Linked DNA regions of Homo sapiens. The protein of the gene in region 1 binds, or shares a complex with, the protein of each later gene. Each region holds a gene or a part of one and is shown in the gene's direction. Other genes may lie near its edges.

What was found. Proteins that work in one complex are often made in the same cells at the same time.
Region 2: DHX16 (region 1) and CRNKL1 share a complex: the UniProt entries of both Homo sapiens proteins name them as parts of the minor spliceosome.

Annotation. Positions count from the first base shown.
Region 1 is NC_000006.12:30,667,658-30,676,908, reverse strand, and holds the start of DHX16 (pre-mRNA-splicing factor ATP-dependent RNA helicase DHX16), read left to right. Parts: upstream 1-3,902; 5' UTR 3,903-3,926; coding exon of another isoform or gene 3,927-3,953; 5' UTR 3,954-4,067; coding exon 4,068-4,274; intron 4,275-5,634; coding exon 5,635-5,873; intron 5,874-5,956; coding exon 5,957-6,119; intron 6,120-6,442; coding exon 6,443-6,499; intron 6,500-9,251. UniProt on the Homo sapiens protein: Required for pre-mRNA splicing as a component of the spliceosome. Contributes to pre-mRNA splicing after spliceosome formation and prior to the first transesterification reaction.
Region 2 is NC_000020.11:20,041,130-20,049,468, reverse strand, and holds part of CRNKL1 (crooked neck-like protein 1), read left to right. Parts: intron 1-37; coding exon 38-129; intron 130-967; coding exon 968-1,126; intron 1,127-1,537; coding exon 1,538-1,704; intron 1,705-1,706; exon of another isoform or gene 1,707-2,321; intron 2,322-3,942; exon of another isoform or gene 3,943-3,982; coding exon 3,983-4,161; intron 4,162-5,806; coding exon 5,807-5,977; intron 5,978-6,952; coding exon 6,953-7,144; intron 7,145-7,843; coding exon 7,844-7,903; intron 7,904-8,339. UniProt on the Homo sapiens protein: Involved in pre-mRNA splicing process. As a component of the minor spliceosome, involved in the splicing of U12-type introns in pre-mRNAs.

The DNA of each region.
Region 1 (9,251 bases):
TCTCGGGATTTAAGCACTCGTCTCTCTGGGAGGCCCAGACCCCACTCCATTTATAGGCACATCTCCTTCATTTCCTAGGTCACTGCCCCTTTGTTTACAGCTCCTGCCTCCTCCCTTGACCACAGCCTGGTTTACAAATTCCATCAGCTCCCAGCCCCACCTGCCAAAGTCCCAGGTTTACAAGCCACGCTTACTTGCTGTGTCTGCGTGGAATTCTCTCCTCTGTCCCCTCCAGTCTCCTCATTGGAGTGACCTGAAGGTGTGGCTTCCTCCACTTTTTCTCAGTATTACTTTGCCTTAGTTTTCCCCAAGAGGGAAGGCTGGAACTCTTAACTCTGTACCCCTTGATAGTTATTTAATTCTGTTTCTCCTAGTGGTTCACAATTGAACTGAATTGAGATGGTGTCGGGTGGCTAAGGAGACACCTCACCTCTCCTTCCCCATTGTGCCGCCTTTATCAATTGCCTGTTTTGTTTTGTTTGTTTTTTAACTTTCCATAATAAAATGGAGTTCTCTTCAACTCGTCTGCTTCTCCTTCTTTGGGAAAAAAAAAGGGTATGTGAGGGGAGGCTCTGGTGGCTGGGGGAGAGGAAAATGATGGGGGATGAACCAGGAACTCGGCACTGACATGTCAAAAGGGGTCTGGGAAGCTGCACGTGGGTTTCACGCAGGACAAGCAGGTGACATGAGAAAGGGCAGTTGAAGTGTCCACTAGACTGGAAGTGCCATGAGGGCTGACTACATCAGCTGGATTCACTGCAATATCCTGTACCTGTCAACTAGTAGACACGGAATTATTTCTAGAATGAATGACAACAAATGAATGAATAGAAGAAAAGGGTTAAAATATTACAGAGGACACTTTGAGTTGAAGGGTTCTAGTATTCAGAAGCCTGCTGCCATGAAGGCAGCTAGGTAGTGTATGACACAACCCATGTGGCTAATCCAGGGATACTTACTTAAAGAGCTGGGGCTACGAATACTAAATCTGAAATTGCTGCAAAATGAAGTAAGTATGTACAAGAGTCAGTTTCCTGGAAAAGGTTCCCCTCTGATAGACAATGGATTTTATATCGTTAAAGGCCTAAAGGCCGGGCACGGTGGCTCACGCCTGTGATCCCAGCACTTTGGGAGGCCGAGGCAGGCGGATCATAAGGTCAGGAGATTGAGACCATCCTGGCTAACACGGTGAAACCCCGTCTCTACTAAAAATACAAAAAATTAGCGGGGCATAGTGGTGGGCACCTGTAGTCCCAGCTACTCGGGAGGCTGAGGCAGGAGAATGGCATGAACCCGGGAGGTGGAGCTTGCAGTGAGCTGAGATTGCGCCATTACACTCCAGCCTGGGCAGCAGAGTGAGACTCCATCTCAAAAAAAAAAAAAAAGGTTTAAAAACCATCTTGATAGTGCATGGCTTTGGTGCCCATGTAGTTGATATTTGGAATTTTCCCATTTCAAAGAATATCTTATACAAATGTGGAACATCAATATTTTACTCATCAGGAAAATTTGTTTGTTTGTTGTTAGCTCTCCAGGCTAACAAAGATATGGTTGAATAGTTATAGTCCTTCTACCACTACAAGTTGCTCCTCTCAGACTGGTCAGAGGAGGCCCCACACCTTTACTATAAAACAAAATATATGAGACAAATTGAACTTAAGCATACGCCAAAGGTTTTCAATTTACTAGCAAGAGAACAAGCCAGGTGTCAAAAGACTCAGCCAGTTCAGAGAAGGTCTGGGTAGGGAAGGAAACAGAATGATTATATTAGTAGCCTGTTAGGTAAAGGTCTTAAAAAGTTTCCAGTTGTGACCCAGGAAAACAGAGTTAGGAAGCTCCGAGGTGCCAGGGGTGCTCACAGTCCATCTCAGAAACAGAAAACAATGCATTCAAGAGGTCAGGCCAGGTGTGGTGGCTCATGCCTGTAATCCTAACACTTTGGGATGCCAAGGCGGGTGGACTGCCTCATCTGAGGAGTTTGAGACCAGCCTGGGCAACATGATGAAACCCCGTCTCTACTAAAATACAAAAAATTAGCTGGACGTGGTGGCACGCACCTGTAGTCCCGCCTACTCAGGAGGCTGAGGCAGGAGAATTGCTTGAACCCAGGAGGTGGAGGCTGCAGTGAGCCAAGATCACGCCACTGCATTCCAGCCTGGGCGACAGAGTGAGACTCCGAGACTCCCTTTCCAAAAAAAAAAAAAAAAAAGTCAGTGATGTAGATCCACTTGTGGCTATTAATAAGAACAATGTTTCATTTCCTAACAGTAGTGCCTGGTAACTGCAATTAATCACAAAAGTATGATGCAGGATCAAACAAATCAGACAGCAGAGCATCGAGTAACAAATTCAGCTTTTTGTTTTGTTTGTTTTTTTTTTTTGAGCATAGTCTTGGTCTGTTGCCTAGGTTGGAGTGCCTGACCTCGGCTCACTGCAACCTCTGGCTCCTGGGCTCAAGAGATTCTCCTGTCTCAGGCCCAGTGCGGTGGCTCACGCCTGTAATCCCAGCACTTTGGGAGGCCGAGACGGGCGGATCATGAGGTCAGGAGTTTGAGACCAGCCTGACCAACATGGTAAAACCCCATCTGTATTAAAAATACAAAAACTAGCTGGGCGTGATGGCATGTGCTTGTCACACTTGTAATTCCAGCTACTCAGGAGGCTGAGGCAGGAGAATCACTTGAACCTGGGAGGCGGAAGTTGCAGTGAGCCGAGATCGTGCCATTGCACTCCAGTCTGGGCAACAGAGCGAGACTCTGTCTCCAAAAAAAAAAAAAAAAATTCTCCTGTCTCAGTCTCCAGAGTAGCTGGGACTACAGGTGCACACCTCCACACCTGGCTAATTTTTTGTAGAGATGGTGGGGTCTCACCCTGTTGCCCAGGCTGGTCTCAAACCCCTGGTCTCAAGATATCCTCCTGCCTCAGCCTCCCAAAGTGCTGGGATTACAGCAAGAGCCACTGCACCTGGCCTTGCTTACTTTTAAATAAGCAGCCACCAGTGATTTTCTCAAGCTGTTAAGCAAAAATGCAGAACACAGTTTGCCTGTTCCTTAGTTTGGAGATTTTGTCTTTAACAACTTTCCCCAGTTCCCCAGTTTCTTCCTGCCTAGAGGTCTTCCCTTATACCTGACCTGTCTTCACTCCTGCTGCAGGCAAACCAGTCCTAGCAACGGTCACTTTTTTGTTTGTTTGAGACAGAGACTTCCTCTGTTGCTCAGGCTGGAGTGCCGTGGTGGGATCTCGGCTCACTGCAAACTCTGCTTCCCATGTTCAAATGATTCTCCTGCCTCAGCCTCCCGAGTGGCTGGGACTACAGGCGCACACCACCACGCCAGGCTAATTTTTATATTTTTAGTAGAGACAGGGTTTCGCCATCTTGGCCAGGCTGGTCTCGAACTCCTGACCTCAGATAATCCGCCCGCCTTGGCCTCCCAAAGTGCTGGGATTACAGGCATGAGCCACCGCGCCCGGCCAACAATGCTAATATGTTTTATGAGCATGGACCCGATCTTCCAATCTGAAATAGAATTTCATTCCTCCCTTACTTTGTATAGTTTTTGGCTCTATAAAATTTCCATACTTTCTTTATTATGTATCCTGTCCCTCCCCCACCGCAAAATGTAAATTTGGTAAGGAACTTTTGATTTGTCCTCTGCTATATCCCAGGGACGGAAAGCAATGAGCACACATTAGGCATCCATTAAATTAATTTCACTTGTTGAATGAATGCGTGAGCGAAGCACTCACAGACTGACCATCAGGGGGCGTCAGAGAAACTGGACAGAGGCGAAATGAAGAAAAAAGAATTACCCCGAGTTTTCAGGTATGGTTCCGCGAGGTTTGAACTCGCTCGGCCACCGTAGTGCTTAGAGGCCGAAAAAGTACAGCCCCTTCCGGGCTCCGCGGTACGGGAAGACAGCTTTGGGATGTCGGAAGATCCTAGAGGTCCCAAGGTAGCTGACTTGCGAAGCTGAGGCTCCAGCCGAGGGCTCCAGGCCTCTGACCGGCCCAGCAGTGAGCGCGGCTGCCCGACGCTTCAGGGCCGGGAGCAGGGAGCGTGAGTCGCCATGGCGACGCCGGCGGGTCTGGAGCGCTGGGTTCAGGACGAGCTGCACTCGGTGTTGGGGCTGAGCGAGCGGCACGTCGCCCAGTTTCTGATCGGTACCGCACAGCGCTGCACCTCTGCCGAGGAGTTCGTGCAGCGCCTACGAGACACTGATACCTTGGATCTCAGTGGGCCGGCCCGGGACTTCGCCCTGAGACTCTGGAACAAGGTGTCGGCAGGGGTGGGGAGGGGCCCTGTGATTTGTCCCGGTGAGGCTGGCCTAACGGTCCATCGAGAAGTTAAGAAAGCTCAGTTCACAAGCACTTATTCTTTGTCCGTTGTCGCGTAGGTACTGTGCTAGCTGCTGGACGCCCAGCTCAGTGGAGAAGATTGAGGAGGGCTTAGGTGTGTCGGGTTAAGCGCAATAGAACGGTGTTTCTCGAACTCTTAACATGCATCCAAGGTTCTTGTTAAAATGCAGATTGCGATTCAGTAGGGATCTTAGTTTCTGCATTTCTTTCTTTCTTTTTTTTTTTTTTGAGAGACACAGTCTCGCTCGCCCCGTCGCCCAGGCTGGAGTGCGGTCGTAAGATCACGGCTCACTACAGCGTCGACCTCCCTGGTTGAAGCGACCCTCCCACCTCATCTTCCCCGGTAGCTGGGACTACGGGCGCGCGCCACCACCCCCGGCTAATATCTTTTATTTTTATTTTTATTTTTAGAGATGAGGCCTTGGTGTGTTGCGCAGGCTGGTCTCTAACTCCTCAGCTCAAGCAATCCTCTCTCAGCCCCCTCAGAGTGCTGAGATTACAGGCGTGAGCCACCATGCCCGGCCCCCCTCATCTTCTGAACTTCCTTTCAGTCGTTTAATTAACAGAGGGGGCCGGGTGCAGTGGCTCACACCTGTAATCCCAGCACCCCGGGAGGCTGAGGCAGGAGGATTACTTGAGCCCAGGAGTTCGAGACCAGCCTGGGCAACATGGCGAAACCTTCGTCCTACAAAAAAATTAAAAATTAGTTGAGCGTGGTAGTGTGCACCTGTGTTTCTAGCTACTTAGGAGCCTGAGGTGGGAGGATCCCTTGAGCCCAAGAGGGACAGAGTGAAACCCTGTCTGTAAAAAAAAATAAAAAACCCCATTCAGGATGATGAAGATGGGGTGAAGCCATGAGGAAGAAAGAGAATGAATGCTGGTTAGCTGGTTTAAAACTAAGTAATTGTGCCCGGGTGTGGTGGCTCATGCCTGTAATCCCAGCACTTTGGGAGGCTGAGGTGAGTGGATCATGAGGTCAGGAGTTTGAGACCAGCCTGGCCAACATGGTGAAACCTCATCTCTACTAAAAATACAAAAATAGTCGGGCGTGGTGGCATGTGCCTGTAATCTCAGCTACTTGGGAGGCTGAGGCAGGAGAATTGCTTGAACCTGGGAGGCGGAGGTTGAAGTGAGCCGAGATCACGCCATTGCCTGACAGTGGGGCCGGGCCGCGGGGGCAGGAAAGACTAAGTAATTGCTTAAATTAGGAACAGAGCTAAGTGGGAGGGCAGAGATCAGGAGTTGCTCAGACCTCCTTATCTTCCCCTCTACTGACAGGTACCACGAAAGGCAGTGGTAGAAAAGCCAGCTCGGGCAGCAGAGCGAGAGGCCCGGGCCCTGCTGGAGAAGAACCGATCTTATAGGTTACTGGAAGACAGTGAAGAGAGCAGTGAGGAGACTGTGAGTAGGGCTGGAAGCAGCCTCCAGAAGAAACGTAAAAAGCGGAAACACCTCAGGAAGAAGCGTGAGGAAGAAGAGGAGGAAGAGGCTTCTGAGAAAGGGAAGAAGAAAACAGGGTAAGTCAGAAGCAGGGTGAGAGAGGATGGGGCAGGCTGAAGTGTTCTCTATGCCCTTATTTAATCCCCTGGATGGGCTGCAGGGGGAGTAAACAGCAGACAGAGAAGCCAGAGTCGGAAGATGAGTGGGAACGGACAGAGCGTGAACGCCTTCAGGACCTGGAGGAGCGTGATGCCTTTGCTGAGCGGGTTCGACAGCGGGACAAGGATCGGACTCGAAATGTCCTGGAACGGTCAGACAAGAAGGTGAATAGGAGCAGCATGTTCTGTAAATCCCCAAGATCCCAGGGTGAAATCTGAGGTTGGCTGTGAGTGCAGAGATAGTGATCTCTGGGAAGACAAGGGGCTGTCTCTAGTGAGATGTTCACCTCTGTGGTGAGAGAAGCCCTGTGCATCCTGTGGCTAAGACAACTGTCTGCTGTACCTGCAATCAGAGAGATTCCTCACTGAGAGGGGACATTTTTTGTGTTAGGGCGCATCTGAATGATCCTTGTGATTCTAGAGGGGAGCAGCTGTCAGTGTGGGGGCTCTTTGGCCTCACACCCCTCCATTCTTGTTTTTTCTTCTAGGCTTATGAAGAGGCTCAGAAGCGCCTCAAGATGGCCGAGGAAGACCGGAAGGCCATGGTGAGTCCCAGGGCCTAGGGAGCCAAGATCAGAAGACAAAAGGAAAGACTTTCTGATAGAGTGTATAGGGAGAGAGGATACAGAGGAAGCACAGTGTGGATGCTGATGGGGTGGTCAGGTTTCTAGAAGAGGGGCTTGGTTGTTAGGAGCCAGCTGAGGATAGACTTATGTTGTTGAGGGAAGGATCCTTCTTAAGTTGTAGGGGGAAGGAGGCTACCCATAAGTCCTCCTTGACTCTTAACTTTAGGATCAAATATACTCTATTAGTGAATGAAATTGTGAGCTTTCCCTATTCCTGAGTCCTAATGAGATATGAGGCAGCTGGAATGTTGTCAAGAAGGTTGCTGGAGGGCAAGGGCAGGGCAGCAGTCCCACTGTACAGGGATGTGCTGACCATTCAGCTTAGGCACACCATCTCCAAATACCTTCCCACCACCTAATTCCTGCACCCCTTATGTGGCTTTGTGATCTCCCTGTGTCTTCTCACTGGACAGGGACAGAGCCCTTGTAATTCATAAACTGGACTTTTTATGGTGTGAAACTAGGTAGGGTAAGCTGTTTTCCAAAGGCCTGGTCTTGTCAAGTAAAGTCACACTTAGATTCCCCAATACCCCAATAGAATTTTGAGACTCTTGAAGTTCCTTTTTTTTTTTTTTTTTTTTTTTAAACCTTTTTTCTTTTTTTTGAAACGGGGTCTTGCCCTGTCACCGAGGCTGGAGTGCAATGATGCGATCTCGGCTCACTGCAACCTCCGCCTCCTGAGTAGCTGGGATTACAGGCGCACACCACCACGCCTGGCTAATTTTTTGTACCTTTAGTAGAGACGGGGTTTCACCATGTTGGCCAGGGTGGTCTCGAACCCCTGACCTTGTGATCCACCTGCTTTGGCCTCCCAGAGAGCTGGAATTACAGGCGTGAGCCACCATGCCCAGCCTTCTTTTTATTTGTTTTGTTTTATTTTTTATTTTTATTTATTTATTTTTGAGATGGAGTCTCACTCTGTTGCCAGGCTGGAGTGTGGTGGTGCGATCTCAGCTCACTACAACCTGTGCCTCCCTGGTGGAGGAATCAAGCGATTCTCCTGCCTCAGCCTCCTGAGTAGCTGGGACTACAGGCCTGCAGTACCACACTCGGCTAATTTTTTGTATTTTTAGTAGAGGAGATTTCATCATGTTGGCCAGGATGGTCTTGATCTCTTGACCTTGTGATCTGCCCGCCTTGGCCTCCCAAAGTGTTGGGATTATAGGCATGAGCCACTACGCCTGGCCGTTTTTACTTTTTAAAATTCATTTATTTATTTTTTTGAAACAGAGTTTTGCACTTGTTGCTCAGGCTGAAGTGCAGTGGCGTGATCTTGGCTCACTGCAACTTCCACCTCCCGAGTTCAAGCGATTCTCCTGCCTCAGCCTCCAGAGTAGCTGGGATTACAGGCATGAGCCACCTCGCCTGGCTAATTTTGTATTTTTAGTAGAGATGGGGTTTCTCCATGTTGGTCAGGCTGGTCTTGAACTCCTGACCTCAGGTGATCCACCTGCCTCGGCCTCCCAAAGTGCTGGGATTATAGGCGTGAGTCACCACGTGCCCGGCCAACTTTTGGAGTTCTAAGAATGGCCTACTGGTTCCCAGGTCTCTCCTGACCAATTTATCTCATATCTCTTCCTGAAATTGACTGTGGTTAGGCTTCTGGGACATCTCAGTGCAGTTGTGGTGGTAGTGGTGTTACTGTTTTGGCCTGAATTTAATTTTTCGGGTTTTTTTTGAGACAGAATCTCATTCTGTCGCCCAGGCTGGAGTGCAGTGGCATGATCTCGGCTCACTGCAACCTCCGCCTCCCGGGTTCAAGTGATTCTCCTGCCTCAACCTCCCGAGCAGCTGGGACTACAGACATGCACTAGCATGCCTGGCTGATTTTTGTATGTTTAGTAGAGATAGGGTTTCACCATGTTGGCCAGTCTGATCTCAAACTCCTGACCTTTGGCGATCCACCCCCCTCGGTCTCCCAAAATGTTAAGATTACAGGCGTGAGCCACTGTGCCCAGCTGTAATTTTTCTTTTTCGATTACAAAAATATTTAAGCACATAGGGAAGTTGAAAGAATAGAACAAAGAACACTCATAGACACTATTCAGATTGAAAAATGGTTAATACTATGGGTAGTATTTGCATTGTAATTGTAAATGTGGTATGTTTTTTCTTTTCAGACCATTTAAAAGAGTCTTAGACATCATGGCGTTTTATCTCTAAGTACATCAGTGTGTACCTGCTAAGGATAAAGATATTGTCCTCTAAAATCAGAATGCTCTTGTCACAGTCAGGAAGTTGAACAGTAATTCTTATGTATCGACTAAGATCTCTCTACAATAAAAGATACCCTCATTACCCTCAAAATAACTTTAATGACTGCTTTTTCCTAACAAGAATGCAGTCAAGGTTCATGCATTGCATTTGGGTCTTAGATGTTAAGTTTGTTTCTCTCTCTGTCTGTCTCACCTTGCAGTGTCCTACATTCTGGATTTGCCTGATTCTTATCTTGTGGTGTTAAGTACTTCTCTGCCCTGTGCTTTCTTTGAAGCAGGAATTGGGTCTAAAGCTTATTGACACTCAGATTAAACAGTTGTGGCAGGAACACTTCTTGGGCGGTGATGTGCACTTCATATTATGTCATATCACGGGGACATACTATCCAGTTGTGTATCTATATATTAGTATTAATATCCTTTCTACCAATAGCCTTTCATCAAATGCTTTTAGA
Region 2 (8,339 bases), on another chromosome or scaffold:
TTTGTCTTTTGACTTGACCCTTTTTGCCTTCTTCCAGACTTTTGAAGATAATATAAGAAAAAACAGGACTGTGATTAGTAACTGGATAAAATACGCACAATGGGAAGAAAGCCTAAAGGAGATTCAAAGGTAAAATTACTGAGAGTGTAGTTTTGTATATAATGATTCATAGATTAACAGATACCAAAAAGAAAAGAAGAAAAAGTTAAAGCACAGGTAAAAGATTGTGCCTCGGGTAGAAATTTTCAACTTTGGTTCCATGGAACCCTAGGGTTCCCTTGAGGGCCTCAGGAGTACTGGGGTAGAATAGTCCTGGGGAGGGTGGCAGAAGAGGCTTTAGAGATAGATCTTGTCAGTTGTAGCTAAAGAAGCACAATTTCATTTGCTTTGTATATATTGAGATTTTTACAAATTTCAGCTAAACAATGGCCAAAAAAAATAAAACCAATGGCCAAAAAAAATAAAAATTGCAATCTGGCCCTTCCTGTGGTCTAGCTTTCTGCATTCTCCCCGCATACCTCCTTCCCCCACTGTGCCTGTGTATGTGCCACTCCCTGAATATATCATGTCTCCTTATCGTGAGGCTTGACTGTTCTCCTTGCCTGGAATGAGCACCCCCTCCTCACCAAACTTAGTTTCCTGGTAAATCGGAACGTTCCTCAAGTTCTCATTTCTACAATTACCTACTACTTAGCCTTTTCCACCAAACATTTTCATTTCTTCCTCTCTGTTTCCCGTGCAGATCTTGACTATAACATAAATCACATTGCATTATAATTGCATGCATGTCTTTTTATAAGACTTTGTAAGGTACTTGAGAGCATTATATCTTTTCATTTTTTTATGCCCAGAACTTGGCTCATGGTAGACACCTAATAAAACATCAGTGCATTCCAGATAGTTTGAAATAACTGCTACATGTGTTGAATGCTCTATTTTTGATGCCCTGCAAATCTTGCTTCTTAAGGGCTCGATCCATATACGAGCGTGCTTTAGATGTAGACTACCGAAATATTACACTCTGGCTGAAATACGCAGAAATGGAAATGAAGAATCGCCAAGTCAACCATGCTCGAAATATCTGGGACCGGGCCATAACAACGCTGCCTCGAGTTAATCAGTTCTGGTAAGTTTCTGATCTAACAAAACAGCCTTTTATAGACTAGCAAAGTTCCACATCTTCTGTATTTATTTTATTTACATGATGATAGTTTAATTTGATATCCTACTTTTTCTTCAGACATAAATGCTGTTATGTCCCATAGTCTATTAAGTCATAATCGTAATGTTCTATAGCTATGTAATCAAAACTAAAATTTTGATTGCAATCTTTTATTCATAAGCTTCTTGTTGAACTAGGCAACTTTTAAGAAAAAAAAATCTTTTTTTCCAATGGTTCATCCTTTTTCAGATTTACATACAAATGACAAAACATGTTTGATTTAACCTTTAAGAAAGGTAAAATCTTCAATCTTCTTCCCATTCAACAATGGAAGAACTAAACCACAGCAGATATTTTCGGGTGATTTTGTTACAGGTACAAGTACACGTACATGGAGGAAATGTTGGGAAACGTTGCCGGTGCCCGGCAGGTGTTTGAGCGCTGGATGGAGTGGCAGCCTGAGGAGCAAGCCTGGCACTCCTACATCAACTTTGAGCTGAGATACAAAGAGGTGGATCGGGCCCGCACCATTTATGAGCGATATATCCTTTGGACGAGATCTGTATGGTGCCATGATTGTCCTGGATGCTGCTGCTGCTCCTGTAGAGATGTCTCATGATCAGGACACACAGTCATTAATGTCAGGCTCAAAGTCAAGAATGCCAGTTTATCAGCTTCCCTATGTTTTGTAGGGAAAGAGATTGGTCAGAATGAAAATTTGTATTCTGGGTAACTAGTCTTTTCTAGTGAGAGTTTGGGTTTATTTTATTGTAATGCTAAAAGCTAATGTTTCCTTGTGGAAAATGATATTCCTGGGGGATTGTTTCCAGGAACTCAAGGGGATACCAAAATCGGTGATGCTTAAGTCCCTCATATAAAATGATGTAGTATTTGCATGTAACCTATGCATAGCCTCCCATATAATTCAAATAATCTCTAGATTACTTATACCTAATGCAATGTAAATGTTATATAAATAATTGTTATTCTGTATATTTTAAGGAATAATAAGCAAAAAAACGACATGTTCAATACAGAAGCACTTTTTTCTCACGAATACTTTATCTCAGGTTGGTTGAATCCACAGATATGGAACCCATGGCTGGAGGACTAACTGTACTAAGGTCCTGGCTGCCATTGCCAGTCCTGTTTTTCTAAGGTTTGTGTTGGTCATTACTACCTTACTGGAGTTCATCCAAGGTTTACTGTTTACTAGCTGTGTGGCTCCAGAGAGTCATTTAACTCCTTTGAGAGTTGGTGTCCTCTTCTTAAAAACAAGAATAAAAACACCTTTGTTGGGCTGTTGCGAAGATTAAATGATACACATGAAAGCACTTTTAGAAACTGAAGTACAGTCATTCCTCACTATTTGCAGATTCCATGTTTGCAAAATCACGTATTTGCTAAAATTTATTTGTAACCCCCAAAATCAGTAATTGTGGCACTTTCACAGTCATTTGTGGACATGCACAGAGCATGAAGTCCAACAAGGTGAGGCTTGCCTTCTGGTCTTAACCTCATATAACCATGCCTAGAGCTTGGAGACAGGAAGGGCCAGTGCCATGTAGTGCAAGGAGCTGTGGCTCTGGGGCCAGTCGGGGAGTTTGAATCCCTGTCAGTGGGGCAGCCTCAGTCCAGTCACTTAACATTTCTGAACCACTTTTCTTACAAAATAATGAAGATAGAATCTGCCAGGATGAGTTCTTTTTAGGATTTAAGATGATGATGAATGTGAGATTGTATATATACACGTTTCTCCTAGGAGCAGTGGTTCAGTACTCAATAATTAAGTGTTCGCATTGACTAAATAGAACATAACTACCAGAAATAATGAGAGTCAACTTTATTATGCAGTATTAAGATCTTTTTATTTTTTTACTCTTCTCTGTTGAGGTGACAATGTTAAGATCTTAATTATGTCTACTAATTTTAATATTATTAGTTTGACGAAAGCTTTTATAGCACTTGCTACGTGCCAGGCAGTATTCTAAGTACTTTACAGATATTGTTGTTTAATCCTCATAACATCCTTGCAGTGTAGGAACTTCTCTGTCCTACAGATGAGGGAGCTGAGGCATGAGAGATTAAGTAGCTTGACTGGGTTCTCACAGGTGCTGATGGAAATAGAATGTGAACCTAGTAGAGCAGCTTCAGAACTGATGCTCTTCTTTGCCATATTGGAATATATTACTACTTTGGAAATTAATGATTTATTCAAGGAAGATAGATTAAAATGACAATTCAAAACTTTCTGCTTTGACTCTAGTTAACAGTTTTCTTTTTATAGCATGTTTTTTTCTTAATTATTAGTTCAAGTATTCATATTTTAATATAATTGGTGCTATTTAATGACCAGACCATTATTGACCGCTTACGGTGCCATGTTCTTTTGGCTAGAAACTGTGCTAAGGGCTTTACATACATTTTCTCATTTAAAGCTGGCAGTAATCCAGTGAGGCTGGCATTATTTTTCCCTGTTTACAAATGAAACAGCTGAGACTTAGACGTCTAAGTTCAGTGACTTATCCAAGATCACATGGTTGGTAACCTGGGTTGAGATTTTTCTTTGCTTCCAACTCGAGTTTATACCCACCACTAAAATCTTAACTAAGCACTGGAGGAAAATAGAGATGAACAGGCGTGGCCCTGCTCTCACAGAAGCCACTGTTTAATTCTACACTTTTGTATGTGTTTTGTTCCCCTAGAGTTGTAGTTTGAATTTTTGGAGTTTCCAGGCTTTGGTATGGTTTTGGTGTTTACTTACTTACTATTTTTTTAAGCCATGCTGTTTTGCCTGGGATTTCCTTAATTCCCTTGCACTTGTCCTCGTGCACCCTGATGTTAAGAACTGGATCAAGTATGCCCGCTTTGAAGAAAAACATGCTTATTTTGCCCATGCACGGAAAGTGTATGAGAGAGCTGTGGAATTCTTTGGAGATGAACATATGGATGAGCACCTTTATGTTGCCTTTGCCAAGTTTGAAGAAAATCAGAAAGAGGTAAGTATACCTAACTTCATTATACTGTAAAACAGCTTAGCAAAGATTACATTTTGTGCATGGTGAGTTCATTTCCATTTTTTCTTACTGACATATCCCTGGAAAGATGTTTTCAAAATACAAAAACACAGCTTCTCACAGAGAACAGCATATATATGTGACTAAGCTACAGATGGGAGCTGATTATAGATTGTATTATAACTGTCTTAATTTTATTGTGCTTTGTTTGAAAATTAAGCCTTTTAGTCTGAATGCCCGTAAACTGAGAACTAGTCTTTTGGCATCCTAAGTAAAGGACTTAACCGATAATAAATATGGGAAACAAAAAGCTTAAAGCCCTAGAACAGAAAACATTTAGAATGGAAACAGAGATTGCCCTACAAATAAGAGAGTTCTTTTTTTCCCTTGTACCTATGAAAATAGCTCAAATATTGAGAAGATGAGGCAGAAGGATCACTTGAGGCCAGGAGTTTGAGACCAGCCTGGGCAACATAGTGAGACCCTGTCTCTAAAAAAAAAAATTGAGTGGGCATAGTGGTGCACACCTACAGTCCCAGCTACTTGGGAAGCTGAGGCAGGAGTATCACTTGAGCCTAGGAGTTTGAGACTACAATGAGCTATGTTCGTGCCATTGCACTCTAGCCTGGGTGACAGAGCAGGACCCCATTTCTTAAAAAAAAAGGGAGTTCAAATAATACAGAATTGAGATCCATCCAAATACAGGTTTGAGCATTCCCAGTCTGAAAATCCAAAACTCAAAATGTGAAACTTGTTGAGTGCTGACATGACACTCGAAGGAAATGTTCATTGGAACATTTCAGACTTCGGGTTTTTGGATTAGGGATGCTGAACCAGTAAGTATAATGCAAATATTCCCAAACTGGGGAAACATCCCAAATCCAAAACACTTCTGATACCAAATGCTTCAGACAAGAGATACTCAACCTATATAAGGTCTTGCACGGACCATGCTAGGGAGTTCAGATTCTGTTCGGGCCAGTGGGAAGCATTGAAAGGTTTTAAGCGGGACAGTGATTGGATATGATTTATATTTTAAGGAGAGCCTCTGGCTAATTCATGGAGAATGTATGAGGGTAGATGGCAAAAGTGGAACCAGGGGAGACCAGTGGGGAGACTTTTGAAGTGGGCCAGGTGAACAGTGGAGTTTGATGGCTGGGGGCTGGGGAGAAGCAAATGGCTGTGTGGAAGAGATTGAAATGGTAGGGCATGTTGCAAGAGTGAATATGGAGTATGAGGAAAAAAGAGGAATTGAGGATCACCTGAAGGTTTTGGCTTGAGCAAGTGACTGTAGGTTAGGCCTTGCCTACTAAAATTGGGAAGATGGGGAGAGTCCCAGTTTGAGTGGGGAGGAAACAGAAGCTCAGTTTTGGACCTGTTTGAGATGTGCAGTAGACATCCAGTTGGCAGTGTTAGGTAGACAGTATTAAATATGGAGCTCAAAGCAGAGTACCGGTCCATCCTGACAGAGATAACCTTCAACAAGAGGGAGAAAAGCATCTTACTCTGGATATTATGAGGCCTCAAAATCTAACTTATAAGTAATATTTTGTTATATTTACTCTCCTAGTTGTGACTGGCATGAGAATATTGTGTTATAGAAGGTAATCATCCTGTCTGCATTTAGTTTGAAAGGGTACGAGTGATTTACAAGTATGCCCTGGACAGAATTTCAAAACAAGATGCCCAAGAACTCTTTAAAAATTATACCATCTTTGAGAAGAAGTTTGGTGATAGGCGGGGTATTGAAGATATCATTGTGAGCAAACGGAGATTCCAGTACGAAGAAGAAGTGAAGGTGAGCACTGGTGTGGATGGTCAACTCTGCAGATAACCCAAGATGTGCTCATCAATACTAGCAACACTAAAATGAATAATAGCAAGTAGCACTACTAGTGATTACTCTCGTGATGATGTGCCCGTGATCCAATTGGCAGCTATTTCAGACAAGTAGGAATAAACAAGGCTGATAGAAAAGGCAAGCAAACAACACTTGGATTTGCTCTGCCACTTACATGTTGTAAGTCGTTTTGTTGATTGTTGACTGTATGTAGAACTGGAGCAAAAGAAATGTGGAATCCATTCGAGCTCATTGTTGGAAGAAGGTGGAAGAGTCAGAGATTGGTCCAAAAACCTGTTTTGCACATCACCTTTGAGCTTAACTGCCTGAACAAAAGATGTATGCTAGACAGGGTTCCATCGGCATCTCTTTTTCTGTAATGTACTATTTTGATTTCAATTCAAAGAGAGTGTCATTTTCCTTCAGTATTCTGTTGTGTATTTAAAAATACTCTTCCTTAGTCAAGTTAATTAAGATACCTCCAAGCAAAGGACTAAGTCTGTTATTAAATGTGGTGGTAGGTTAGCAAGATATGTTAAAGATGAATTGCTATTAATTGGAAAGGCAAGTTTAACAATTGTGAGCATGATACGATTCTGTTGTTACAGACATAATGATACATAGTCACATATTTAAGCAAATGCATTGGCAAGAATAGGCATCTAATTATTGACTGTCGTGAGAGTGATGGCTATAGATGAAGGAGTCCTTGCTGTGGGACACCTGGCCAGTAATCTATCCTCTGTATTCCTGTTTCTTTTCTATTTATGCAGTCTCAGGGATGGTGTTTTTAAAATGAAAGAACATGTAACATTTAGAAGAAAAGGTGCTAAAATATAGAAAGTCAGCCTGATGCCTTTTTTCAGCTTGCTTAACCTGGCAAGTGCAGCTCTTGGTTTTGTTTTTTATTTATTAAACTGGTTGTCTTTCTAGGCGAATCCACACAATTATGATGCATGGTTTGATTACTTGCGCTTGGTAGAAAGTGACGCAGAAGCTGAAGCCGTGAGAGAAGTCTATGAAAGGGCCATTGCCAATGTCCCACCCATTCAGGAGAAGAGGCACTGGAAGCGCTACATTTATCTTTGGATCAACTATGCACTCTATGAAGAATTGGAGGCAAAGGTGAAAAAACAGAATTATGTGTCAGCTGATAATGGTTTCCTGTCTTCTGTATTCACAGCTCACCTATTGTGGATGTTTGTAATTCTTGAAAGAAGGAAATTTAGTTTTAAATTTTTATAGGCTTCTGTTCATCCATACAGTTATATATTCGCTCTGCAACATTTTAAACCCTCTGTGCTTGTTGTGGCCACACGTGAGGGGCTTTTTTAACTTTGGTTTGATTTTTACTTGAGGCACAACAAGATATCACTTGGAGCTTGAAAGAGAACAGTGAACCAGCCCTTAATTTAGTGAAATATAGTTTCCTGGATTTGCTCATTAATAGGAGTAATTCTGGCTAGATTATGCATTTTTGCTTTTAGCAAAAATCAAGTGGCATTTTCAGAAATCATTTGTATTAACCTTCTGGGTTTGATCTGAGACTATGAAACATCTTTGTTTCTTTCTGCCATCAGGCAAAACGGCTTTCTACAAAGAAGGGCTTAGAAGTTTGGTGGCTATCTTGTTGGTGATTCTTAAACTGAAGTTTCATGGCCGTTCATACTTTAGATCATAAATCAGGGTTTGCAAGTAACAACTTGTGAAACATGCTGTTTTGGGGGTGTACATTTTTACCAATATCAGTAAAATTAGTAACTAGTAAAATGAGTGTTAGCAGCAGACTTCAATATTTTGTGAAAATTTCTTATCCTAATACAGGATCCTGAGAGGACAAGACAGGTGTATCAAGCCTCTTTGGAACTAATTCCTCACAAAAAGGTATGTTTGCTCTAAAGTGTTCCATTTCAAACAGGTCAGAATCCTCTTCTGTTACTTGTGAAGTAATTCAGTGAAATAATATTGATTGATAAAATGCTTCCCTGTCCCACCATGGACAACATAAATAAGACTGAGATATGCTCCTTGCCTCTGAAAACAGCTCACAGACTAGGTTGGAGGACAACCTGCATTGACAAACAAATAATATAAATTCAGAGAAGGCTAGGTAATGTGAATAGTCTGAGTGGAAGGAGAAAGACATCCATGCAGAGAGCACACAACGTGTGCGGGGGACACACAGGCGGGTTTGTTGGTAACAGTGAGTGTGTGCATGCACAGATGAATGTGCCCCTTGTGTAGATGGTTGAGATGTTACCTCCGCCTTGTTTCCCAGCACGAGAAACAAAACGTGTTTCCTTCTGTAGAAGTGTTGACT